Linked DNA regions of Homo sapiens: regions 1, 2, 3 and 5 are each linked to region 4. Evidence: fine-mapped expression QTL. A gene starts in region 4. Each other region holds a variant in brackets. All regions are shown on one strand. Distances are between the middles of the regions. Region 1 overlaps RNF24 (ring finger protein 24). Region 2 overlaps PANK2 (pantothenate kinase 2). Region 3 overlaps RNF24 (ring finger protein 24). Region 4 holds the start of PANK2 (pantothenate kinase 2). Region 5 overlaps PANK2 (pantothenate kinase 2).

Evidence for each region. PIP is the estimated chance that this variant, and not a neighbour inherited with it, causes the effect.
Region 1: its variant is fine-mapped to the expression of PANK2 in whole blood (TOPMed, PIP 0.93).
Region 2: its variant is fine-mapped to the expression of PANK2 in whole blood (INTERVAL, PIP 0.98).
Region 3: its variant is fine-mapped to the expression of PANK2 in whole blood (INTERVAL, PIP above 0.99).
Region 5: its variant is fine-mapped to the expression of PANK2 in whole blood (TOPMed, PIP above 0.99).

Annotation. Positions count from the first base shown.
Region 1 is chr20:4,004,419-4,009,522 of GRCh38, reverse strand. All of the region lies in intron 1 of RNF24 (ring finger protein 24), which reads left to right. Among named protein-coding and RNA genes, the nearest start is that of RNF24, 8.6 kb to the left of the region's middle. The variant T/A (reference allele first, on the strand shown) is at 2,903.
Region 2 is chr20:3,908,503-3,913,606 of GRCh38, reverse strand. It overlaps PANK2 (pantothenate kinase 2), which reads right to left. Exons shown (of 7, transcript NM_001386393.1): 3 at 2,777-3,030; 4 at 973-1,149. Among named protein-coding and RNA genes, the nearest start is that of MIR103A2, 6.4 kb to the left of the region's middle. The variant A/G (reference allele first, on the strand shown) is at 2,409.
Region 3 is chr20:3,998,240-4,003,343 of GRCh38, reverse strand. All of the region lies in intron 1 of RNF24 (ring finger protein 24), which reads left to right. Among named protein-coding and RNA genes, the nearest start is that of RNF24, 15 kb to the left of the region's middle. The variant G/A (reference allele first, on the strand shown) is at 3,114.
Region 4 is chr20:3,886,212-3,891,315 of GRCh38, reverse strand. PANK2 (pantothenate kinase 2) reads right to left here and starts at 1,929. Exons shown (of 7, transcript NM_001386393.1): 1 at 1,588-1,929. The coding sequence starts at 1,885. It overlaps PANK2-AS1 (PANK2 antisense RNA 1), which reads left to right and starts at 2,143. Exons shown (of 2, transcript XR_001754478.3): 1 at 2,143-2,577; 2 at 2,767-4,947. RefSeq lists silencers at 1,545-2,044, 2,235-2,294 and an enhancer at 2,303-2,854.
Region 5 is chr20:3,923,322-3,928,425 of GRCh38, reverse strand. PANK2 (pantothenate kinase 2) reads right to left here. Exons shown (of 7, transcript NM_001386393.1): 7 at 1-5,104. It overlaps RNF24 (ring finger protein 24), which reads left to right. Exons shown (of 6, transcript NM_001134337.3): 6 at 1-1,115. Among named protein-coding and RNA genes, the nearest start is that of MIR103B2, 8.3 kb to the right of the region's middle. RefSeq lists an enhancer at 2,221-2,390. The variant T/C (reference allele first, on the strand shown) is at 2,995.

The DNA of each region.
Region 1 (5,104 bases), 120 kb before region 4:
GCCTTCCTTAGACCCATGTTTTCTGTCTCCTGTCGGAGGCAAGCTCCCCTTTCTACTGTGTTCCTCCTCACATCTTCTATACCTCATGCCCCCTCATATCTCACAGCTTTAGCATTTTTGCCCTCTCTCTTGCATCATCAGCAACTCTCCAGGGGGCTATCCATGTCAGCATACACATATGCCGTGACGTTGCCCATCTTTAAAATCAGAATAAGCTTCAGCAAACAACTTTTCCCTGACCCTCCTCTATCCCTTTCTATTTACCTACATGGTTAAGTCTCTCAAAAGAGAAGTTTACGTGCCTTCCCTACCTCCTCTATAGTACGTACCACCCTCTGAAATTCTGTTGTTTAATAATTTTTGTGTGACTTACCCCTAATAGAAGGTCAGCTCCAGGAAGGCAAGGACCTCATCTGTCCTGTTTACCACTCTGTCCCCTAGGACAGCAGGTGGCACAAGTGTCTACTCAGTACATGGGCAAAAGAGGCACAACTGACCTGGTAAAATAGCTTTTGATTTTTAAAAATTTCTAACAAGAGAATCCATGTTTTTTAATTACTCACCATTTTTTGCTACACTTAAGAATTGAAACAATTATGAAGAATATATTAATGATCAAATTTTGCCCTATGTTACATTTCATTCTTTCATAAGTATGACTTAATATTGGCAGTCTTGGGCCGGGCATGGTGGCTTATGCCTGTAATCCCAGCACTTTGGGAGGTCAAGGCGGGTGGATCATGAGGTCAGGAGTTCAAGACCAGCCTGGCCAAGATGGTGAAACCCCATCTTACTAAAAATACAACAAATTAGCCGGGTGTGGTGGCGGGTGCCTGTAATCCCAGTTACTCGGGAGGCTGAGACAGAGAATTGCTTGAACCTGGGAGGTGGAGGTTGCAGTGAGCCAAGATTGTGCCATTGCACTCCAGCCTGGGTGACAGAGCGAGACTCTGTCTCAAAAAAAAATATATATATATATAATATATATAAATAATATATATATAATATATAATATGTATAATATATATATTATATTATATTATATATTATACATATTATATATTATATATTATATATATTATACATATTATATATTATATATAATATATATATTATACATATTACATATATAATATATATATTATATATATAATATATATATTATACATATTACATGTATAATATATATATTATATATATAATATATATATATATTTGCAGTCTTGCACCTGGACTCTGGCATCAGACTGCTTGGAGTTGAATTCCAGCTCTTTCACTTTTTGCTATGTGACCTCCAGCAGGTTTCCTAACCTCTCTCTTTCTTCATTTGTAATGTGGTTAATAATAGTTCCTACCTCATGTGTTTGTTTTGTGTTCCAAATGAGATAATATGTAAAACACGAAACTCAGTACTCGTCTTGGGAGTAAACTCAATGAAAAATAATAGTAATTATTATAGCCTCCTCCAGTTTATAATATTTGACTCTGACTTGGTCTCTATAATATTTTTGTTCAAAATACTATATCTCCTAGGGTATATGGGCTATCAATATGATGATTCAGCTGTTCTTGGTTTTGTGGGGGGCGGGGGTGTGTTTGTTTTTAAGAGAGAGAGTCTTGTTCTGTCGCCCAGGCTGCAGTGCAGTGGTGTGATCTCCAACTCACTGCAGCCTTAACCTCCAGGGCTCAAACAATCCTCCCACCTCAACCTCCCAAGTAGCTGCGACCACAGGCACACACCAGCATGCCAGGCTAATTTTTTTTCTTTTTTTTTTTTTTTTTTTGTAGAGACAGGGTCTCACTATGTTGCCCAGGCTGGTCTCAAACTCCTGGGCTCAAGTGACCCTACCAGCACCTCCCAAAGTGCTAGGATTACAGGCAGGAGCCACCATGCCCAGCCAATAAATCATTTTGATCACTTGATAAAATATTTTTATTTCAAGCCAAGTCCTGTTCTTTGTTTATTTGGTTTTCTCAGAGGTGAGGTTCTTTCTTCATGTTATTCCACATTAAGTTTTCTTATTTCTGGAAATGGAGCTTTAAAAACACCCAATATATCATCAACAGATTTTTTTTTCTTTTGAAACAGCTATAAGACAATGTTCTTTTCATCTACTAGCTAGCTGGGAGGGTAAATATATGTAGCAGTACGAAGTATATTCTGAGGACCACATAAAAAATACAGACAGGCTCTGTAGAAGTTCAGGCTAGGGAGAGTCAGGTACTTCTAACCCTAAGGGATTCCTACAGCTTTTCTGCATGTTAAATAGTCTGTTTTAGCTTATTCTCTTATTACTTGTCTTGGTTTTTACTTTGAAAGTTTGCTTAATAATCATGGGAATATTTTAGATTTTAAAATACAAAATATACAAGCTAAACTTGAGAGCAGTTTTTAGTTGTAGAAACTGTTTCTTGAAGTAATTGACTTAGCGTTTGCTCTGCCTCTTTCTTTTCTTACCTAGGTAGGTAGTGGGGACTCCTTCAATTATCTGAGCAATTCAAATCTCAGAATGTAGTGTTGGGTAAATTGAGGGTTCTAAAAGAATGCCAGATGGTTTGAAAGGAACTGTGAGCATTCCAACTAGTGCAGTCCTTTGAAAGCCAGCTGGCAGAGCCTCCTGTGCTTTGGAGGTAGGAACCAGACACTTTGTTCCATGCCAGCTGGCCCAAGAATAGCTGGCCAGTGGCCTTGCTTTTGGCTGGCCACTCTTGGGAAAGCTGGCCTGGGCCCTCCATGTGCCCTAAGGATAGTCTGATACCAGAGAGTTGCACTGGCCCTCCATAGTACCCCAGGGAGTTGGAGAAAGCCTGCAGTGGCAAGGGAAAGGAAACTGCTATTTAGATAATGTTACAAGTGAACCTCGTGTTACAAATTTGCTCTGGAAATTTAATGTAATTTGAA[T/A]TTTTATGGATTCACTACTGTTAGGTGTATTAAAGTTGCAATGAACTGTAGTGAATGTTTTTATATTGTAAGTAACTTCCAGGTTACCTGCTTTTAAAGTTCCTGTTTTTATTTGTCAACTTTTCTTAAAGTGAGGTTTGCCCGTTCCTTTTGTTGTCATCTTCTAAAGTTTTGATCATTTGAATTAGGAAAATTTTTCCATCTTGTTGTAAAGCTTGCTCCTGTGTAAACCATAGACTTTTTTTTTTTTTTGAGACAGAGACTTGCTCTGTCACCCAGGCTGGAGTGCAGTGGTGCTCTTTCTGCTCACCGCAACCTCTGCCTCCTGGGTTCAAGCGATTCTTCTGCCTCAGCCTCCCAAGTAGCTAGGATTACAGGCATGCGCCACCACACTCAGCTAATTTTTGTATTTTTAGTAGAGACAGGGTTTCACCATGTTGGCCAGGCTGGTCTTGACCTCAGGTGTTCTACCCGCCTCAGCCTCCTAGAGTGCGGGGATTACAAATGTGAGCCACCACACCTAGCCATAAACCATAGATTCTATAGAAGGTTAATTATGTATGTAGTCTTAGCTTGTCTCTCATTTTGATGGTACTTATGTTTTCCCGATTAGACAGGTGCTTGTATCAGATACAGTTCTTCACTTCCTTTAGCAGATTTAATATCATAATTGTTTAATTGACAGCAAAATAAGTGCAAATATCATACTGTAAGAATAATGAGCATTCAGTTCATTTGATGACAGTGTTTATTGAATTCTCAAAATTAATAGTTTCACTGCTGTCTATCAGTATGCTTTATGTTGCCTTAATTTTTTTTTCAAATGTGCAGATTGAATGGTGCTGCAGTATCTGTTAAGTTTATTAAGTTCATCTTGGCAAACCAAAAAAAAATTATAGCTACCTGTATCTCTTTATTGTTCCTTCCCAAATCTGAGCATGTGAAATTATGCTCAGTGATATAAATTTGAAATAGAACCTAAATATTATATCTAAATAGTCTCTTTATCTTGGACTGAATGAAAAAAGTTGACAGATAATGAAACGTCAAATTATGAGTTAATGTAGTTTGTGGGAAATGGGTGGGAAGGGAAATCAAAGGTGTAGGCTTTCATTCATTTTCTTCAGCATGAAACAAGTTGCAAAACTTCTTCAGAAATGTGTTGGAAATCTCATGCATGGCTATAATTAAATAAAGGCTTTTACTCAAACTTGTCGATTATCTCTGTAAACAGGGCAGATGGAATTTTCGGCGTAGTAAGATTTTTTTTTTCTTAAATCACAGAACAGTATATCAATAGCCAGGGGCAATATTATACTCAGAAAATCATCTTTCATATTGGTTAACCTACACTAAAAAGCTTTTATGCCAGTAGCTTTAAATATATTGCCTATTTACTGCTTACAGCAATCCTCAAAGAGTTGTTTATGGATGACAAACTAAATGTCAAAGAAGTAACCTGTTCAGGTTTACAAGTTCAGGGTCCAGTTTTGAACCTAGGCCTTCATCCTCTAGAGCCCACCACCTGTCACAGTGGATGTTATCAACTTTTCACAAGAATACAGTCTCTTTACTATTCAGATGTTATCCTGTACTGGCACCTCTGGAGGGCTATTGATAATGGAAGTGCAGAGATCTTTGCAGATAATAGCAGGAGAATAAGAAGAGATTTGGGGTAGGGGGCAGAATCTATATTTTTTAAATCTCTTCTGATGCTCCTGCAGAGCTACTGCAGTAAATAAAAATGACTTGTCAGAATCAGATGGAGCAAAGGGGGTTTATTAGTTTCTTAACATTGCTGTAACACAATTACTATAAACTTCGTGGCTTTAAACAACAGAAAGTTGTTCTTTCACAGTTCTGGAGGTAGAAGTCCAAAATCAAGGTGTCAGCAGGGTTGCTGTGCTCCCTCCAAAGACTCTAGAGGGGAATCCTTCCTTGCCTCCTCCAGGTTTTGGTGATTCCACACATTCTAGTCTCTGCTTCTGTCTTCATATGGTCTTCTCTTTCTCTCTTATAAAGACACTTGCCATTGGATCTAGAATCCATTCAGATAATCCAAAATGCTCTCATCTCCAGATCCTTAAATTATATCTGCAAAGACCCTTTTTTTTTTCTTAAATAAAGTCGGTTCAAATAAAGTCACATTCACCGATTCCTTGTGTTAAGAAATGGACATATCTTTTTGAGGGCCACCATTCA
Region 2 (5,104 bases), 22 kb before region 4:
TCCTAGCACTTTGGGAGGCTGAGGCGGCAGATCACCTGAGTTCGAGACCTGCCCGGCCAACATGGAGAAATCCTTTCCCTACTAAAAAATACAAAATTAGCCAGGCTTGGTGGCGCATGCCTGTAATCCCAGCTACTCAGGAGGCTGAGGCAGGAGAATTGCTTGAACCTGGGAGGTGGGGGTTGTGGTGAGCCGAGATCACGCCATTGCACTCCAGCCTGGGCAAAAAGAGTAAAACGCCGTCTCAGAAAAAAGAAATATTATTTGGCAATAAAAAGGAATAAAGTACTGATTCACACTGTAATGTGAATGTTTGAAAACATATGCTATATGAAGAAGTAATCACAAAAGATCATATACTGTATGATACCACTTATATGAAATGTTCAGAAGAGGCAAACCTACATTGAAAATAAATTACTGTTTGGCAGGGGCTGTGGGGGGAATGGAGAGTCGTAGCTAATGAACACAAGGTTTCTTTCTAGGATGATAAAAATGTCCTAAAATTGGGATTACAGTGATGGTTGCACAATCCTGTAAATATACTAGAAACCACTAAATTGTACGCTTCAAACAGCTGACTTTATAGTACGTAAATTATATCTCAATAGAGCTTTTTTAAAAAATATGCCCAATATTATTATTTTATGTCTTTTTTTTTTTTTTTTTTTTTTTTGAGACAGAGTCTCACTCCGTTACCTAGGCTGGAGCTCACCGCACCCTCCACCTCCAGGGTTCAAGTGATTCTCCTGCCTCAGCCTCCCAAGTACCTGGGTCTACAGGCGCGCACCACCATGCCTAGCTAATTTTTGTATTTTTAGTAGAGACAGGGTTACACTATGTTGGCCAGGCTGGTCTCAAACTCCTGACCTCATGATCTGCCCATCTCGGCCTCTCAAAGTTTTGGGATTAAAGGCATGAGCCACCGCGCCCGGCCCGCCTGTATTTCTTAGAACACACATGCCCCCTTACCTTGAAGCCACAGCCCAGCCTGGCAGTCCAAACCTCTCATAGTCCCCTCCATAAATATCTCGTACTAGTTTATCCACTTTGGTGCTATCTCCACGAGATGCCATTTCAAGAGCTTCTTCAAAAGTGGTACAGCCAGTAAGAAGACAGCAGAGACCAAAAAAAGTTCCTCCTCCAAGACTATGATTAAAAACAATTAACACAGTATTATAACATTTTTAAAAATAAGAACAAGAAGTTAACATTTATGAACCCCAAAACCATATTCACATATCCAACCCAATCATGCAAATGCCACTGGTAGGAAACAAGTCTGTGAAAAGATAAGGTGCCTGATATACACCTTTAAGGTACATATGCATGTGAGCCAACATGCAAAGTACAAAACACAGGGCCCATGTCCCCAGTGCAGTCTGGCTGTCTGCCAAGTATGAAGAGCCTCAGGTGCAAATTAGCCTGACACGCCTGGGGCCATGCTAACACCTCCTCCCTTTCCCTTCTCCAAGTACATTCCCTGAGTCATTCTCATCCAAGCACCTTGTCACCCTGGCTTATCAGTACACCCCCAAACATACTCCTCCTGCAACGTGTTTTGTCACAAAAAAATTACTCCTCTATTTAAATCACAACTGTTTTTTTAAAAAAATTGTTTATCCCAATCCCTAGATGCCTGTTTTTCCTGAAGTGACCTCTGACCCTTAAGCCGAAACATTCTCTTCTTCCATCTAATCCTCATTTTTTTTTTTTGAGATGGAGTTTAGCTCTTTTTGCCCAGGCTAGAGTACAATGGCACGATCTCGGCTCACCGCAACCTTTGCCTCCTGGTTCAAGTGATTTTTCTGCCTCAGCCTCCCAAGTATATGGGATTACAGGCATGTGCCACCACGCCCGGCTAATTTTGTATTTTTAGTAGAGATGGGGTTTCTCCATGTTGGCCAGGCTGGTCTCGAACTCCCGACCTCTGGTGATCCACCCGCCTCGGCCTCCCAAAGTGCTGGGATTACAGGCATAAGCTGCCGTGCCTGGCCCTAATACTCTCTTTTCTTTTTTTTTTGAGACGGAGTCTCACTCTGTCACCCAGGCTGGAGTGCAGTGGCATAATCTCGGCTTACTGCAACCTCCACCCTCTGAATTCAAGCAATTCTCCCACCTCAGCCTCCCGAGTAGCTGGGATTCACAGGCGCCTGCCACTGCGCCCGGCTAATTTTTGTATTTTTAGTAGAGATGGGGTTTCACCATGTTGGCCAGGCTGGTCTTGAACTCCTGACCTCATGATCCACCCGCCCCAGCCTCCCAAAGTGCTGGGATTACAGGCATGAGCCACCACGCCCGGCTAATCCTCTCTTTTCATACTACCTTCCCTCAATAATTTTTCTACTGATCAGTACATATCAACTTCTAAATCACATACATAGAATACATCATTATTCTACACACAC[A/G]TGTGTGTGGAAGCATGAAATTTACACAGGTTTCAGAGCTAGGTCCTTTCCCGTGCCTTCTCCTTACAGATGCTGCCTAATAACTTTAGCTACTTTGTGTATGCACACCATAAACTATCTGAGGGCAAAGGCTACAATGAGTCTGCTGATGTGATCTTTTAAGAAACACCTAGGATAATAAATCTTGAACAGTAGAGATTAAAGAAAACTAGGTCATAAAATCAGAATTTTCAAAGAGAAACATTTGTTTGCATAATCCAGAAACACTTTCACCTAACAGGTTCTTGAAGGTGTAGTTACATGTAATACCTGAAAACTCAGCCCGTTAGGATACTAAGAATAAACAGTGAGTTTTATATACAACTTACCTAGTACCTGTGACCCGTTTGTAATTATCTTTGGAATATACTGCTAAGATGCTAACCCCTGAGCCAATGTTCACCAGAAGCAGAGGATACGGATTTTTCAAATCAAATGGTAACTTCTGACACTTTTCAGAATCAGCAGGGTTTTCAAAGTAATAGCACTGTGACCGTCCATTGAATCCGACTGAGTCAATGTATAAAATTCCTTTGATCAAGCAATCTAGTTCATCCAGTTTGCAAAGCTGAAGATCACCTATCTGTAATGAAATAAGAATGTACTCAGACTTTTTAATAAGCCAACAGAAACAAAAATTCCATTCAATAAGGCATCCCCACTACGTGAAACAACCATGAAAGTGCACTCACAGATGTGTATTATTTGTGCATGCTTTACAGAACAGATTTAGGAGCAAACCTAGGGACACAGTGCTGAGACAGACTCCTGCTACTACAGACCCAAATACACTCTACATAGAAACTACTGCAGCAGCTGAATAAGTGTGACCAAAAAAAAAACAAAAAAAACAAAAAAAAAAAACCACAGCATTTATCAACCTTCAAACAGAAATTCAGATCTCTGCTTACAGGGACAATGGGGCTGATACCAAGCTCAGGCCACAGCACTATCAGAAACCACCTTGTGACACAGGGTGGGAGCCACAAGGACTGTGACAGAGGACCATCTCAAGGCTTTGGAGCAGTATCAAAAGAGGCCACACATTATTTAACAAACTGAAGCCAAAAGGCTGAAAGTATCCAGTTAGAAGGTAAGATTTTTTTCACTATCTAAACTAGCTACAGCCTCTTGGGAGGGAGGGGAATTTTAGCAGTCAAAATTTGAACTGTTTCATAATCAATTAATTCCATTTAAATAATAAAGGAATGACTAAATTATTATTCGTATTATGGAGCACTGTATAGCAACTAAAAATGAAGAGGATCGGCCGGGCACGGTGGCTCACGCCTATAATCCCAGCACTTTGGGAGGCTGAGACAGGTGGATCACAAGGTCAGGAGTTCAAGATCAGCCTGGCCAACATGGTGAAACCCAGTCTCTACTAAAGATAAAAAAAAAAATTAGCTGGGTATGGTGGTGCACGCCTGTAAACCCAGCTACTCGGGAGGCTGAGGCAGGAGAATCTCTTGAACCCAGGAGGCAGAGGTTGCAGTGAGCTGAGATGGCACCACTGCACTCCAACCTAGGTGACAGGGCGAGACTCCGTCTCAAAACAAAACAAAAATGAAGAGGATCTTTATGTTCTGAAGTGGGAAGAACTCCAAGGCATGTTAGTCAAAAAGTTGAGGCCAGGAACGGTGGCTCACACCTGTAATTCCAACACTTTGGGAGGCCGAGGCAGGCAGATCACTTGAGGTCAGGTGTTCCAGACCAGCCTGGACAACATGGTGAAACCCCATCTCTACTAAAAGACATGCAGAATAACAGGCAGAATCTGGGCCGGGCAAGGTGACTCACCCCTGTAATCCCAGCACTTTGGGAGGCTGAAGCAGGCAGATCACCTGAGATCAGGAGTTCGAGACCAGCCTGACCAACATGGAGAAACCCTGTCTCTACTAAAAATACAAAATTAGCCGGGCGTGGTGGCACATGCCTGTAATCCCAGCTACTTGGGAGGCTGAAGCAGGAGAATCGCTTGAACCCGAGAGGTGGAGGTTGTGTTGAGCCATTGCATTCCAGCCTGGGAACAAGAACAAAACTCCATCTCAAGAAAACAAAACAAAACAAAAAGGCAGAATCTCTTTCAGACTAATATTCTCTCATTTAGCAACAGAAAAACAGTCAGTCACTGAAGACATTTTCAATCTGTATTGCACCCTGACGGTCAGGATCTTGGCTTATTCATTTGTCAGTTCTCCGGCCTACCCCCACCATCCACCCTGAAAGGACCTAGCCTCAAGGTCTTGCTCACAATGTTCTCCAGTGTTCACTCAATGAAAGCAAGATAGAGCGCCTGGCAGCATTCCCCAGGGGCCAGACATGGTGGCGAGACTCCAGTTAAGTGTGCAGCACAGAACACATCAGAAAGCATTCTGGGAGAGGAGGGCTCTGCAGTCACCCATCTCAGACCAGCCCTGAGCCTGAAAACACCACTTTTGACCAGAGTTCCTTATTTTTTTCAGTTAGTGAACATGCCAGCAAACAACTGAGGGAGACAAGAGAAATTATGTGGTAGACAAGACTGAAAACAATTTTATGACATGAAATGATTTTAATTATATTTCAATCTCATTGTTCATGATCTAATGATGTTCCTTTTAGGTAGTTTCTTCCTCAACGTATAGCAGATGCCCTAATTTTTCATACTAAAGGAG
Region 3 (5,104 bases), 110 kb before region 4:
AAAATACTATTTCAGAAGGGATGTGAAGGAGGCCCTGGATTCTTAGAAAATGATTACACAAAAAGAAAAATTCTGGGCCGGGCGTGGTGGTTCACGCCTGTAATCCCAGCACTTTGGTAGGCCGAGGTGGGTAGATCACGAGATCAGGAGTTCAAGACCAGCCTGTCCCAGATGGTGAAACCCTGTCTCTACAAAAATACAAAAAAATTAGCCGGGCGCCGTGGCAGGCGCCTATAATCCCAGCTACTCAGAAGGCTGAGGCAGGAGAATCACTTGAACCCGGGCGGCAGAGGTTGCAGTGTTCTGAGATCGCGCCACTGCACCCCAGCTTGGGTGACAGAGTGAGACTGTCTCAGAAAAGAAAAAAGAAAAGAAAAAGAAAAATTCAAAGCATTCAGTTCAGAATGCAGCTGTGACTTCTGTTTTCTGTGTCTTCATTTTCTCTATTTCAATTCACTACCACCATCCATTTAGAACACCAGAATTATATAAAAGCGTGACACAGTTCTAAGGGGAGTAAATGGACAGCTGCATTCCTAAAGTTTTTTTTAAAAATGTATTATATAAAAACTGTATTTTATCTACTGTTGATTTCCAGTGAAATAACCTACTTCAGGAAACTATATTATATAGCTGTCTGGTCATATCTGAGGAAAAAATGATATTTTCCATATAATTTATTCTGTTTCTAAATAATCAACTGCCATGACTTTTTTCATTGATCCTTTTGTTTTCTACCTGAGATTAATATTACTTAATAGACTTACCTACACTATTTTTTCAGACTTTTCTGCTAGTGAGGTTCTTCTTTTAAATTTTTTTATTATGGCCCTGTGCCTATCAGTGGGATTCAACAATTAACAAGGTTTTGCCACATTTGTTTCATTTATCCTTTATCTTTTACCTTTCTTTGCTGAGGTTTTGTTTTGTTTTGTTTTTTTGTTTTTTGTTTGTTTTTGAGACGGAGTCTTGCTCTGTTGCCCAGGCTGGAGTGCAGTGGCACCATCTTGGCTCACTGCAAGCTCCGCCTCCTGGGTTCACGCCATTCTCCTGCCTCAGCCTCCAGAGTAGCTGGGACTACAGGCGCCCACCACCACGCCGGGCTAATTTTTTTATATTTTTAGTAGAGACGGGGTTTCACTGTGTTAGCCAAGATGGTCTCGATCTCCTGACCTCGTGATCCACCCACCTCGGCCTCCCAAAGTGCTGGGATTACAGGCATGAGCCACCACGCCCGGCTAATTTTTGTATTTTTGGTAGAGATGGGGTTTCATGATGTGGCCCAGGCTAGTCTCGATCTCCTGACCTCCTGATCTGCCTGCCTCGGCCTCCCAAAGTGGTGGGATTATGGGTGTCAGCCACCGCGCCCGGCCCTGTTTTTTTTTGTTTGTTTTTTTAAGAGGCAGGGTCTCACTGTCGCCCAGGCTAGAGTGCAGTGGTGCAATCTTAGCTTACCACAGCCTCAACTTCCAGGCTCAAGCAATCTCTCCACCTCAGCCTTCTGAGTAGCTGGGACTACAGGCACATGTCACCATGCCCAGCTGTTTATTTATTAATTTTTTTTAAGTTTTATAGAGATGAGGTCTTACTCTCTTGCCTAGGCTGGTCTTGAACTCCTAGGTTCAAGCGATCCTTCCACCTTGGCCTGCCAAAGTGCTGGGCTACGGGCGTGATTCACCATGCTGGCCTGAAACTTTGTTCTTTGGTGACCACAAATCTTACACATTCTGCTTTCTTTCCTCTACCAGAAATAAGGGTGATTTTTGTCTTTTAAGTAATATTTCAATTATTTCATCCAATATGTGTTTTGGATTTACAATCTTACCTTTATTCATATCAATAACTATTTTATGTGCCTCATATTCAGCCTGAATTTACAGAAAGCTACATTTGTGGTAAGAAGCACTTGATGAATAACCCCACTACATTTTATTGTTTTAGTTCACTTCTGAGTTTATTAGATCTGATATCATTTTAATATTTTTTCAGGCATTTTACATATGATCTGACTTAAAAGTTCCTGTAATTTGAAAAAAACTGGCTCTTCATGAGGTTTTTTGTTTGTTTGTTTGTTTTTGAGATGGAGTCTCACTCTGTCACCTGGGCTGGAGTGCAGTGGCATGATCTCAGCTCGCTGCAACCTCTGCCTCCCGGGTTCAAGCAATTATCCTGCCTCAGACTCCCAAGTAGCTGGGACTACAGGTGCACGCCACCACGCCCGGCTAATTTTTTGTATTTTAGTAGAGACAGGGTTTCACTGTGTTGCCCAGGCTGGTCTCGAACTCCTGAGCTCAGGTAACCTGCCTGCCTCGGCCTCCCAAAGTGCTAGGATTACAGGCATGAGCCACTGCGCCTGGCCACATATATTTTTGCATAGTAAGTTCCAAGTAAATTTCCATAAAGGTAAAAAAGAAGCAGGGTGATATACAGAAAAGCGTGTGGGATTCAAGTAAGTTTTGACCCTATTATTTGTTACCTATTTGGCCTTGGTGAATCACTATTTAGCCTCAAAATGGGGATAATTATCATTGAATATTCCAGTTATTGTGAGTGTAGTTTATCTCCTTAGCTCTCCTAATGATTATTGTTATTAAGCAAGGAATAACAACAAACAATTTTTGCTACATCTCAGTTCCCCTCTTTTTATAAATATGAGTTCAGTTATGCAGCCAGCTTAGCCTGGCTGCTGAACTGTGGCTGGTCAGAAGTTCCATTTCGGTGGATGTCAGATGATGTAAAAATTGTAACTGCCTAACTGTACTACATAGTTCTTAACTTTTAAGGAGATTATATATGCATTAATATAATTTTTTTTTTTGAGACAGAGTTTCACTCTTGTTGCCCAGGCTGGAGTGCAATGGCTTCATCTCAGCTCACTGCAGCCTCCACCTCCCAGGTTCAAGCAATTTTCCTGCCTCAGCCTCCCAAGTAGCTGGGATTACAGGCATGCGCCACCACACCTGGCTAATTTTTTGTATCTTTAGTAGAGACAGGGTTTCACCATGTTGGCCAGGCTGGTTTCAAACTCCTGACCTCAGGTGACCCACCCACCTCGGCCTCCCAAAGTGCTGGGATCACAGGCTTGAGCCACCACATCTGGCCATTAAAATACC[G/A]TTTTTGATGATTGTTTTAGGCAATTCTCTTTTGCCTTTTTTTAACAGCTTTATTGAGACATAATTTATATCCCATATAGTTTGCTCAAAGTGTACAATTCAGTGGCTTTTAGAATATTAGAGTTTTCTGTCTATCACCACAATCAATTTTAGAACATTTTAGTTATCATTATTCCAAAAAGAATGGCCTTCGCTCCTCAGTCCCCTCATTCTCCCCGCTCCTCCCCCTTCCCTTGCTCTAAGCAACTACCAATCTACTTTCTATTTCTATAGATTTGCTTATTCTGGGCCTCTTATATAAATAGGATTTTAAAAATGTATCCTTTATGACTGGCTTTTTTCACTTAATATGATGTTTTCAAGGTTCATCCATGTTCTTTTTTATCTTAAGGCTCTTAGAGATATACTGACTTATCCTGAAGGAAGAAAAGATGAAGTGACTTTTTTTGTTTGTTTGTTTGTTTTGTTTTGTTTTGAGACAGAGTTTCGCCTCTCGTTGCCCATGCAGGAGTACAATGGCATGATCTCGGCTCACTGCAACCTCCGCCTCCTGGGTTCAAGTGATTCTCCTGCCTCAGCCTCCTGAGTAGCTGGGATTACAGGCATGCGCCACCACGCCCAGCTAATTTTGTATTTTTGGTAGAGATGGGGTTTCTCCATGTTGGCCATGCTGGTCTCAAACTCCTGACCTCAGCTGATCCGCCCGCCTCGGCCTCCCAATGTGCTGGAATTACAGGCGTGAGCCACTGCACCCGGCCGTGACTTTTTTTAAACAAAGAAAATTGACTAGTGTTTCATGAGTCTTCAGTCACAAATGACGAGAAAAGCCCTATAAACGGTTACTGTAGCTATAGACCTAAGAATGGTGTTCTAGTGTAGAATGTGGAAAAGATTCATGTCCCATCATTCCTTTTAGCTGCATTTGTATATATGAATAATGTCATGGTTGTTAGTGAATCTTTCAGTACAAAGGATAATAATGTGCAACTCTATAGGACTGTTGTAACTAAAACTGTTGCAACACTCTCACTTTTATTTGCTGTTCTCTTGTAACTAATTTTCCAGCTGACTATCCTGCATAACTCAGACATTCTTATATGATATCTATGGTTACATGCTACATTTTTGTTTTTTGTTTTGTTTTGTTTTTTGAGACAGAGTCTTGCTCTGTCACCCAGGCCTGAGTGCAGTGGCCTGATCTTGGCTCACTGCAACCCCCACCTTGCGGGTTCAAACGGTTCTTCTGCCTCAGCCTCCTGAGTAGCTGGGGTTACAGGTGCACACCACCACGCCCGGCTAATTTTTGTATTTTTAGTAGAGATGGGGTTTTGCCATGATGACCATGCTGGTCTTGACCTCCTGACCTCAGATGATCCACCCGCCTTGACCCCCAAAGTCCTGGGATTACAGGTGTGAGCCACCACACCCAGTCACGTGTTACATTATTTATTTTTTTTAATTTAATTTTATTTTTTGAGACGGAATCTCGCTCTGTCACCCAGGCTAGAGTACAATGGCGTGATCTTGGCTCACTGCAACCACCGCCTCCTGGGTTCAAGCAATTCTCCTGCCTTAGACTCCTGAGTAGCTGGGATTACAGGCACACGCCACCACGCCCGGCTAATTTTTTTTTTTTTTTTTTTTTTTTTTTTTTTTGAGATAGAGTCTCGCTCTGTTGCCCAGGCTGGCGTGCAGTGTTGCAATCTCGGCTCACTGCAACCTCCACCTCTCGGGTTCAAGTGATTCTCCAGCCTCAGCCTCCCAAGTAGCTGGGACTACGGGCATGTCCCACCATGCCTGGCTAATTTTTGTATTTTTAGTAGAGACGGGGTTTCACCATACTGGTCAGGCTGGTCTCAAACTCGTGACCTCAGGTGATCCACCCACCTTGGCCTCCCAAAGTGCTGGGATTACAGGCGTGAGCCACAACGCCCAGCCTAATTTTTGTATTTTTAGTAGAGACGGGGTTTCACCTTGTTGGTCAGGTTGCT
Region 4 (5,104 bases):
GCCGAAGTGGGAAGATCGCTTGAGACCAGGAGGAATTCAAGACCAGCCTGGGCAACATAAGAGATCCCATCTCTATTTAAAAAAATAAAAATTGAAAAATTAGCCTGGCATAGTGGCACGTGCCTTTAGTCCCAGCAATGCAGGAGGTTGAAGCAGGAGGATGGCTTGAGCCCAGGAGGTTAAGGCCACAATGAGCCATGATCATGCCACTGCACTTCAGCCTGGGCAACAGAACAAGACGCTGTCTCAAAGTAAAAAACAAAAAACAAACCAAAAAAACCCTTGTGGCTAATGGCTATACTCTTATTTGCTGAATCTTTGGAATTTACATCCATTTCCAACGATGTAATACAAAACCATGAAGGATCTCATATTTTGCATTGCTTCAAACTCAGGTGCTTCTCAAATAAAACAAAACTAGGTGACTGACTCTGAAAATGGCACAGGTTAAGAATCTGTTTTCCAAATCTGTTGCAAGAAGATGGAAAAAGACAAAAGAACTGAAAACTCCCAAACTTTTCACAGCAAAATAGAACTACATTTAATCATCCATATCAGAGAAGATTCAAAAAAGCAGTTGGGTGACTGGGCTAAGGTAGAAGACTATTCAATAAAAATCTCACATCTTGCCATTTTCCCTCCCTCTCACAATCTGCATTTAAACAAGTCAATTTCCTGAAATAGGAATCTGGCAACACCCACCAAAAAGTCCAACCATATGTAAAATGGCATCACACTGTAAAGCTCATATTACAGTATCAGGACAATTGATACTTTCAACAGCAGCAATGGCTGCCAGGCAGCGGTCCTGAATTGAAGACTTGTAAAGGGGAGAAAATACACAACACAGAAAAAGAAACCTAATAAAATGGGGAAACGGATTCTCTGGGAGGAGCGTATGCAACTCCCAAGGCAAAATTCAGAAAGATGTTGTTTCCCCTCAAAACAAAGAGCCTTAATGCCCAGAATGCCACAGTTCTGAATCGTGAGTACCTGCAAATAGACAGAAGGAAAACGGAGGGGATATGTGGGTGAGAGATGACCTGGATTCTCACGAGAAGAAGGGCAGCCACCTTAGAGGTGCACGGAATACAGTTTCAGGCCTGGTGCAACTCAAGGGGCAGTTCACCATTTTCCAGTAAGCCCGAAATTGACGAATAAAAGGGACTTAAAGTATTAGAGAGCAGCTCTTTGGAAACCCACGGAAAACAAACATTGGGGATTCAAAGGATTTGGGAGGAAAGGAGGTGGAAATGAGTCAAAAGAAGCCTTCTCGAGGATAAAATCATGTGACCCTCAGGAAGAGAATGCCCAAGGAGCTAAGAAAAGGGAGGACAGGTCCTGGGGAAAAGCCCTCCACTCCAACAAGCGGGAAGTGCATACCAATGGGTGCGGGGGGGCCCCCGAAGGTACCGCTTTCGGAGCACCCGAGGCCTCCAGCCGGATGTCAGGCCACGCACCAACGAGGGACCACCGTGCGGGGACAGTGTCCGCGCGCGGGAAAAACGGCGGCGGGGCCGGAAGGGGACAGGGTGGGCCGGAAGGGGGGGCAGGGCGGGCCGGGAGGGCGCCCCACGGAACACTTACGCGGCCGCTTTTTCCTCAGGCTTTCGACGCGCTGGCGGGAGACCGAGGTGGGGCCGCTGTAAGAGCCCAGTCGATCCCGCCTCGTGCCCTCAGCCGAGGCCCCGACCGCGGGCACCGACGCGCTGCTCGCCCGGCGCCGCAGTGGCTCCTGCCGCCGCCCTTCGGGGTCCCCGGCCGCCTGCTCCCCAGCCGACGAGACGGAGGTGGCGGAAGCCCTGCCGTGGCGCTCCATGGGCGCGCCGAGCCGGCCCCCTCCCATCCGCAGCAGCAGTCGCTGCCGCCCGAGCAAGCCCCCCAGCGTCGGATTCCTTCTCGCCTCCTCCGCGGCAGTCCAGCCAGAGCAGAGGCGCGCCCTCGGCCGGCCGCCTCTTCCGTTGCGCCAACGCGCAGGAAGCCAATCCGACGAGGCTGGGGACGGCCCAAAGGCCTCGCGTCCAGTCGGCTCCCTAACTCGAGGAGGATTGACCGTGCCTCCGTCCAATGAGAGGCTATCGTGACGGGGCGGGGAGAGGGTGGTGGAGGAGGGGATCCGGGTTCCGCGGAGGAAGAGAAGGCGGTGTAGCCCAGAAGAGAGTGATGGCGGCGCCGCCCAATGGACGCGTGGGTGGAAGGGCCCGAGCCTCCTCATCCACCCCCTCCTTCCGCCCCCCACTTGTGCATGCCTCTGCCCCCCCGGGCCGCGGAACTCTCCTGGGGCGACCCCGAGTCCCACCCCGCTGCTCCGTGCCGTCCTCGCAGCTCGAGCCCTCCTCCAGCCCAGCAGTGCTCCCGCAGCGTCTGGCCGCTGGTCGTCGGCAGACGAAAGGGCTTGAACCGCGGCTGACCTTAGCCTTTGTCCCTCGGCCTAGTTCCGCAGCTGCCGTCGAGGCCGCCAGCCCCTCCCCCAGCATGTTTGGGCTAAGCCGCCTCCTTTCCGCCTGCGTTGGAGAGAGAGGTACCAGAAGGAATGAAAGGACTGGGGCTTGTCTCCATGGCAACTGAAAGAAAGAGGTGGGTTATAAATCCTTCGCCACCCTCCTGTGGCGAAGGAGGGGAAGTGGGAGCCGGGAAGTAGAGTTGGCCTTTTGCAGGAGAGTCTGGAGCCCCTTTCTGGGTGATGCATTGGGGGCCATAGAAGGATTTGGCTGCCGCTTTGGAGCATGGATTTTTTTTTTAATCATCTTCCTTTCTCTTTTGGAGAGAAAAATTGGTCACCTCCAGGACTGAGACCCTGACCCTTCCAAGCATCCCCACTACCAAAGGCTGCCCAAGCCCGGAAGGATCCCATCCCGTTCTGTACTCTGAGGTCACTTCCTCACTCCGTCAAATTTCACTGGACTGTGGGCTAATTAAAAGTGCCTCCGTATTAGCGGGGCGTGGTGGCCCATGCCTATAATCCCAGCTACTTGGGAAGCTGAGGCAGGAAAATTGCTTGAACCCGGGTGGCGGAGGCTGCAGTGACCCAACATTGTGCAACAAGAGCGAAACTCCGTCTCAAAAAAAATAAAAAATAAAAAAGAGTGCCTCCCTGGGGAGACTGTAATGCCCACTGGGCAGTGATCCTAATGCCCCTTGGGCAGTGATCCTTATTCCCCTCTCCCATAATGATTGGTTGTAGCAGGCTGAACAAAAAGGTTGAGCTTCGCTTGTGCTTGCTGAATAGAATTCTCACGCCCACTCCACGTTAGCTCCCCTCACTGTAGGACTAGCTCTGAAAATTCTAGCTCCTGTAGGAAGCCAACACAGACGGATCTACAAGAACCAAAAACAGCTATAGCTACTCTTCTAAATCTCAGTGCCTGACATTGCCTCTCTTTCTGCCTCCTCTCTCCACCCCCCAAAAAATGTGGTCCTCCTTGACCTGAGGGAGCTTCCGTCCAAGTCTGAGCTCTGATCATCCTGAAGAATCAAAGTATCATCATCCCTTGGCTGGCAAGATGAACTCCAACATCAAAACACTTGAAACAGTAGTATTTTTACACAATTTGCCCACTGCCTCTACATCTCACTTAGTCCTTGCAGTAACATTTGGATGATGAGGTAACTTATCCAGAAGCACAAAGCCTAAAGAATGACAGAGCTTGGACTCCTGAGAAGTTCAGCTACTGCCCGCCTTATGATAACCAAAAGAAAGCGGCCGGGCGCAGTGGCTCAACTCCTGTAATCCCAGCACTTTGGGAGGCCGAGGCGTGCGAATCACAAGGTCAGGAGTCCGAGACCAGCCTGGCCAACACAGGGAAACCCCGTCTCTACTAAAAAAAACAAACACAAAAATTAGTTGGGCGTGGTGGTGGGCACCTGTAATCCCAGCTACTTGGGAGGCTGAGGCAGGAGAGTCACTTGAATCCGGTAGGCGGAGGTTGCAGTGAGCCGAGATCGTGCCACTGCACTCCAGCCTGGGAGACAGTGAGACTCCGTCTCTAAAAAAAAATGAATAAATAAATAAGAAGGCACACCACAAGTTCGAGACCACTTCTACAAAAAATAAAAAATAAAAAAAATTAGGCCAGGCACAGTGGCTCATGCCTGTAATCCAAGCACTTTGGGAGGCTGAGGCGGGCGGATCACTGGAGGTCAGGAGTTTCAGACCAGCCTGGCCCAACATGGTGAAACCCTGTCTCTACTAAAAATACAAAACTTAGCTGGGCGTAGTGGTGCGTGCCTGTAATCCCACTTACTCCAGAAGCTGAGGCAGAAGAACTGCTTGAACCTGGGATGCAGAGGTTGCAGTGAGCTGAGATTGCACCACTGCACTCCAGCCTGGGCAACAGAGTGGGACTCTGCCTCAAAAAAAAAAAAAAAAAGAAAATGAAGATGACCAAATGGGCTTCTAGATGGCTAATGATATTCTGTTTCTTTGATCTGGGTGGGGGTTACATGGGTGTGTTCCCTTTGTAATATGTTATCAAGACATTTTGTGCACTTTTTTGGGTATTATACTGAAAGAAAACATTTATTTTTTAAAAAGTTGAAAAATTGCCTTGGAGCAGAGTAAGGTAAATCTATGATTAAGCTTAGATTTTTTTATTTTTTATTTTTTATTTTTTTTCAAAAAAAATGAGGCCAGGCGCGGTGGCTCACGCCTGTAATCCCAGCACGTTGGGAGGCCGAGGTGGGCAGATCACGAGGTCAGGAGGTCGAGACCATCCTGGCTAACACGGTGAAATCCCATCTCTACTAAAAATACAAAAAATTAGCCAGGCATGGTGGCAGGCACCTGTAGTCCCAGCTACTCGGGAGGCTGAGGCAGGAGAATGGCATGAACCTGGGAGGCAGAGCTTGCAGTGAGCCAAGGTCACGCCACTGCACTCCAGCCTGGGTGACAGAGCAAGACTCGTCTCAAAAAAAAAAAAAAAAGTAAAATGAACCTAACAAGAGGCATCCTTTCTCTGTGGTTATTATAGTGAGAACTAAGTTCTTTATCACTCTCCGGTTATTTACCCCTAGAGAGAAGCCAACTTTCTGGTTGTATACACCAGAATAAGTACAAGAATGGTAAGCATAGAGCTTCAGAGAAACTAGCCAGATTCTAAAGGAA
Region 5 (5,104 bases), 37 kb before region 4:
AGCTGCTTCCTCCAGGCAGCCCTGGGAGTAGGGGCACAGACTTGTGCCTCGCTTCCCAGCAGCTGCCCAGTGCCTCTGTCCACACCCACCTCCCTGGTGTACTTGCCCCCTACAGCAGCAGCCCAGATCCTCCCCTGGATTAAAATTGCAACTGGTGCCCTAACCCAAAACTTGAGAAAAAATTCTCTATCACATCCACTCTTCTGGCATTTGTAGAATCTCTGGCCCTGGGTGTGTCTTTTCCTGTAGCTGTTACAGATTTCTTAAGCAGATTTCTTAAGCAGATGGACATGTCCAGATTCATGCCTAAATATCCAGTTGATAACTGGAAAATGCTGGTTCACGGTTCTTTAGTAAAGATTAATAAGGGATCCCCATGTGCTGGGGAGTGTGCTTCCATTTGAGTGGGGATATCAGAAGAAAAAGAGGGGCTTGTGTAGTAAACCTTACTTTGCCAATTCAGCTGTAGAGCCCAAATTGTTACAAGATGCAAAGATGTACTCCACTTTTTGACCAAGCATCAGCACCTTTGGCTTACCATCCAGTCCTTACTTCTGTGACTGTAAGGGCCCCACCAGTGTCAGCAGACTTGTTTGTGCTTTGGGGGAACTCTCTTCTCAGCTCCCTTTGCCAGTCCCAAGCCTGGTGGATCTGCATCTCACGCCCACTGCACACCGTTCCTCTCCATCTGCCCTTCCCTCCCAGGCCCCCGGTCGGGGGAGCAGGTGTGGCAAGTGTTAGGAACTCCCTTCTGGTGACAGCTGGTCTTCCTAGAGTGTTGCTGGTAACTATCGCCTCTTGGTCTTCTGACATCATTGCCAGGAACGGGGCACTTTTTCGTCTTGTAGTTTGGCCCTCGGGTTTCCTCACTAGGTATTGTGTAACTCCCTCAAAAAAAGGTTTATGAAATGCTGAACCTCAGGTTTCATAGACGTCTTTGTACACTAAAAATTCTGCAGCAGAATATTTTTAAACATTCGCAGTTTTTTGTAAGCTATATTTTTGTATATTTAATTGCTATTTTAAAATTTTAATGCATTTTGCTAATCACTCCTCAAAAATAAAACATGCATGTAATTGACTCAAACGTGTAAATAAAAGCAAATTTTGAAAAATAGTGTTGTGCATATGCCTTTGAACAGAGGGAACATCCATGTGCCACTTACGCAAGCACCTTCAGCAAGACTTGGAAACTCAAGGTGAGTAATTCTATCAGAGCTGGTAACTAGTACTGAGTGATTGTGATGGAAGCCCCTGCCCTTCCTGTGGCATAGTGTGCAAGCGGGGGTGGGGTCAGTGGTGAAGAGTGTGTCAGGCCACCACAGCCAGAGAACAGAGAATCCTGGAATGCAGAGTACAGTGGAGTCTGAAGCCCCCTGGCCTCCCTGAGCTCTGCAAACAGCTGGATACAGATAAGCAGTCTTCCACGTGAACGCCAGCACCAGGGTGACCTGAAATAGCGGATTTTTTTTTTTTTTTTTTTTTGAGACAGTCTTGCTGTCACCCAGGCTGGAGTGCAGTGCAGCAATCTCGGCTCACTGCAGCAACCTCTGCCTCCCAGGTTCAAGCAACTGTCTGCCTCAGCCTCTCGAGTACCTGGGATTACAGGCACGCACCACCATTCCCGGCTAATTATTTTTGTATTTTCAGTAGAGACGGGGTTTCACCATGTTGTCCAGGCTGGTCTTGAACTCCTGACCTCAGGTGATCCACCCGCCTTGGCCTTCCAAAGTGCTGGGATTACAGGCATGAGCCATTGCACCTGGCCAAAGTAGTGGAACTGAGCCTGTTTCCTCCACAGGCCACACCACCCTGCAAAGAGTTGCCCCCACCCCAAGCCCCTAGCTATATCCCAGGCCTGGAAATAACTAGTGTCAGGAGAAAAAACGTCCAAAGCCTTCCTGTGTGGCCGTTGCTGCTCTCCTCACCACCCCTCACTAGGACCGAGTGGCTTCCCAGCTTCCATCAAGGCCAGCCACGATCTTGCAACCAATTGTGGGCAACCTCAATTCAGATGCCTAGAGAGCTCCTCTTCTCAGTCCCCTGAGCCACAGGCCCCTGGCCAGCCTCTCCCTGAGCAGTCGTTTTCTTTGCAGCTTCCTCCGTCACTGCTCAACTCTCGGTTATTTTTCTCACCCTACCTTAGAACTCATGAAATCCCCCTTGCTTTGCCCACCTACATGCATATCATTCTCAGCTCTGTATCTCCAACCCAAATACCCAGTGCTTATTTGGAGTCTCAAAATCACGTAGTCCACAAATGAGCCCAGGTGCCCTCTTGTATCTCTCCTCCCTCCCCTGTATCCAGTCACCACTTCCCAACACAGCCCTCTAAGCATCTCTCCATTCTGGCCATCCACTTCTCCCCTCTCCATTCTGGCCACCCACCTCCCATCTTAGTTCAGGCCTTCCTTTCTCACCTGGACCACGGTCACAGCCCCCTTCATGGCCACTAGTGGAGGGCAGACTGAAAGGGACAGCTGCTAAGACAGGGAAGTGGCAATGGTAACAGCAGAGTTTATGGGCACCTCACAACCTGAAGGTGGTGAGACGGCAGTAAGCTGGGATGAGGATGTGGGCACTGCTGCACAGAGATCAACAAATGCAGAGAGAAGGCAGTGTCTCGGGGCTGGAGCTCAGAGGTAAGGGGTGGTTGAAGTGTTCCCTGGAAATCAGTCAAGGTGATGCTAATGACTGCTTGGGGAGACCCAGGACTGAGGCTGAGGACAGCCACAGCTAACTGTCAGCAGAGAATGAACCAGAACATTAGTAGCCTGGGTGGCAGGACAGGCAAGAGGGCTCTGCTGAGTGAGAACTGAGATGAGGCTGTGAAATGAATGCCAGATTCGGTGGCATGGGATTCACTGGTGGCCTATCAAGAACCCTGCTGTGAGCCGGGCGCAGGGGCTCACACCTGTATTCCCAGCACTTTGGGAGGCCAAGGCAGGCGGATCACCTGGGGTCTGGAGTTCGAGACCAGCCTGGCCATCATGG[T/C]GAAACCCCATCTCTACTAAAAATATAAAAATTAGCCAGCCATGGTGGCACATGCCTGTAGTCTCAGCTACGCAGGAGGCTAAGGCAGGAGAATTGCTTGAGCCTGGAAGGCAGAGGTTGCAGTGAGCTGAGATCGCCCCACTGCACTCCACCTGGGTGACACAGCGAGACTGTCTCAAAAACCCTGCTGTGGAGTGACAGGGTTTACTGAGCACAAGGTGGAACATGAGGGAATGGACTAGTTTCTCTAGAGTAGGGGGAGGGCCCACGGAGGAGGAAGCTCAAAGCGAGGCAGAAGGGGACATCAACAGCGTCTTCCCAACTCAGGCACCAGAGACAGACAGTCCCGGGTTTGAGTCCAGCTCTACTCTTTTCCAGCTGAGTGACCCTGGGCAGCCTTACTCATCCGTTCAGTTTCCTTTTCTGTTAAATTGTGGGAACAGCAAGGGCTGCATGGTGACCCACGTCGAGCAGTGGACAACCTCCTGAACGCAGCACAGCAGAGGCAGCAGGACCACAAAACAGGGGCCTCAGAGGGGCAGGCCCTGGCCTCGGTCTCCATGGGAAGTGAGCAAGTTCACAGGAGTTGGCCCAGGGAGCAGCACCCTGTGGTACAAGCAGGAGGATGGTGGTGCCATCTTTGGTGCCTGGGTACTGGAGGAGGGTGAGGCCACCAACAGCGCTGCTGGCAGCAGAGGAGGGCAGAGGAACTCAGGATCAGGGCGTCAGAGGTAGTATAGGCCAGGAGCCTGCAAACAGCAGCAGCAGGGAAGAGGGTCACCAATCACTCTCCAGGGGACAAAATTACCCTCCACGCAGCAGCCATCCTGCTCTGCACCCACACAAGGTCCCAATGCAGCAGCACCCATATTTCCTAAGTGCCAAGGCCCATGTGCAGAGGTGGCCACGCCTAGTGGAACAGCCCACAGCCCACATATCAGTTCCCCTTGCCCCAGCTGGAACACGGGTGTCTCTGCTGCCTCCATGCGGCTGGCACCCTGCCCATCCCTCCCTGACCACAGCCTTAAACGGAGGGGAGCAGGGAGGCTGCAGAGCCTTGGGGTTTTCCCTCCTGGTCCAAGGCTGCTTTGTACAGGCCCATCCTTGCCTTCAACAGCAATATGGGCACCACTTAAGACCTCAGATATAAAAGGTGCATTCTCTCCTTGGGAAAGGCTTTTGAAATTATTCTGCAAAGCAGAAAGAAAAGCTTCAGCCCCTACCAAGAGCACCTGCAGCCTGGCACTCTCCTCAGGCAGTCTTCTGAGACTCACCTCCCAAGTGCCACAGTGCCCTGAAGGACCCCCCACTCCCCATGAGTTCTTTGACAGACACTTCAGTTCTTCCTTTTCTACTTAGCCTGAAAGAAAAACCAGATTCTCCCTGATCCCCTGAGGGGGTGTCAATTCTAGTGGCCCTGCTGACTCATGTTAGTCCTCCAGATTGTGCTGCTTCTGCCAGTGTACCCACTTGCATCAGAACAGTCCGCCCACTACCCAAGGAAATTCTGCCAAGAAAAGAAGCCCTGTCTCTCCAGACATTCATTCCCAGGATTTAGTGTAAAGTAACGTGGAACTGCCCTTCCAAAAACTGCTTGTTAAGTTTCAGGTACACAATTAACCTGCCCAATTAATTTTGCAGAACCTTGAAATAAAACATGTTTTACAGTAAGTTCACACACAGGCTTAATGCAAACCAGAGTAATGCACAGATGATTGCCAAGACCATATTGACAAATTGTGATTAGATTATAACGCATAGTAGCCTGCCTTACATTCAGCAAGTTCAAACAGGACACAAAACCAGTCAACTGAACACAGAGCAGCTCTCTTCAGAAGCACTTCCAATGAGTGATGCAGAGATTTCAAAAATACAAAGCAGGCAACTTATATACAGCAAATCCTCACACTGCCTGGACATGTGCCACTTTTTTGTTGTTTTTAATATATTTTTCCTTCCTGGTTGCTAATTTAGACTGAATTCTTAAGGATTTATCTTGATGACTTAGAAAAATACACCTGTCCTTTCTCACTTTGTTTCAGGTAGTACAGTCATGAAATTGAGTAAGTCTCTTAAAAAAATGAAAGTCCACAGATCCCATTGTGGAAGG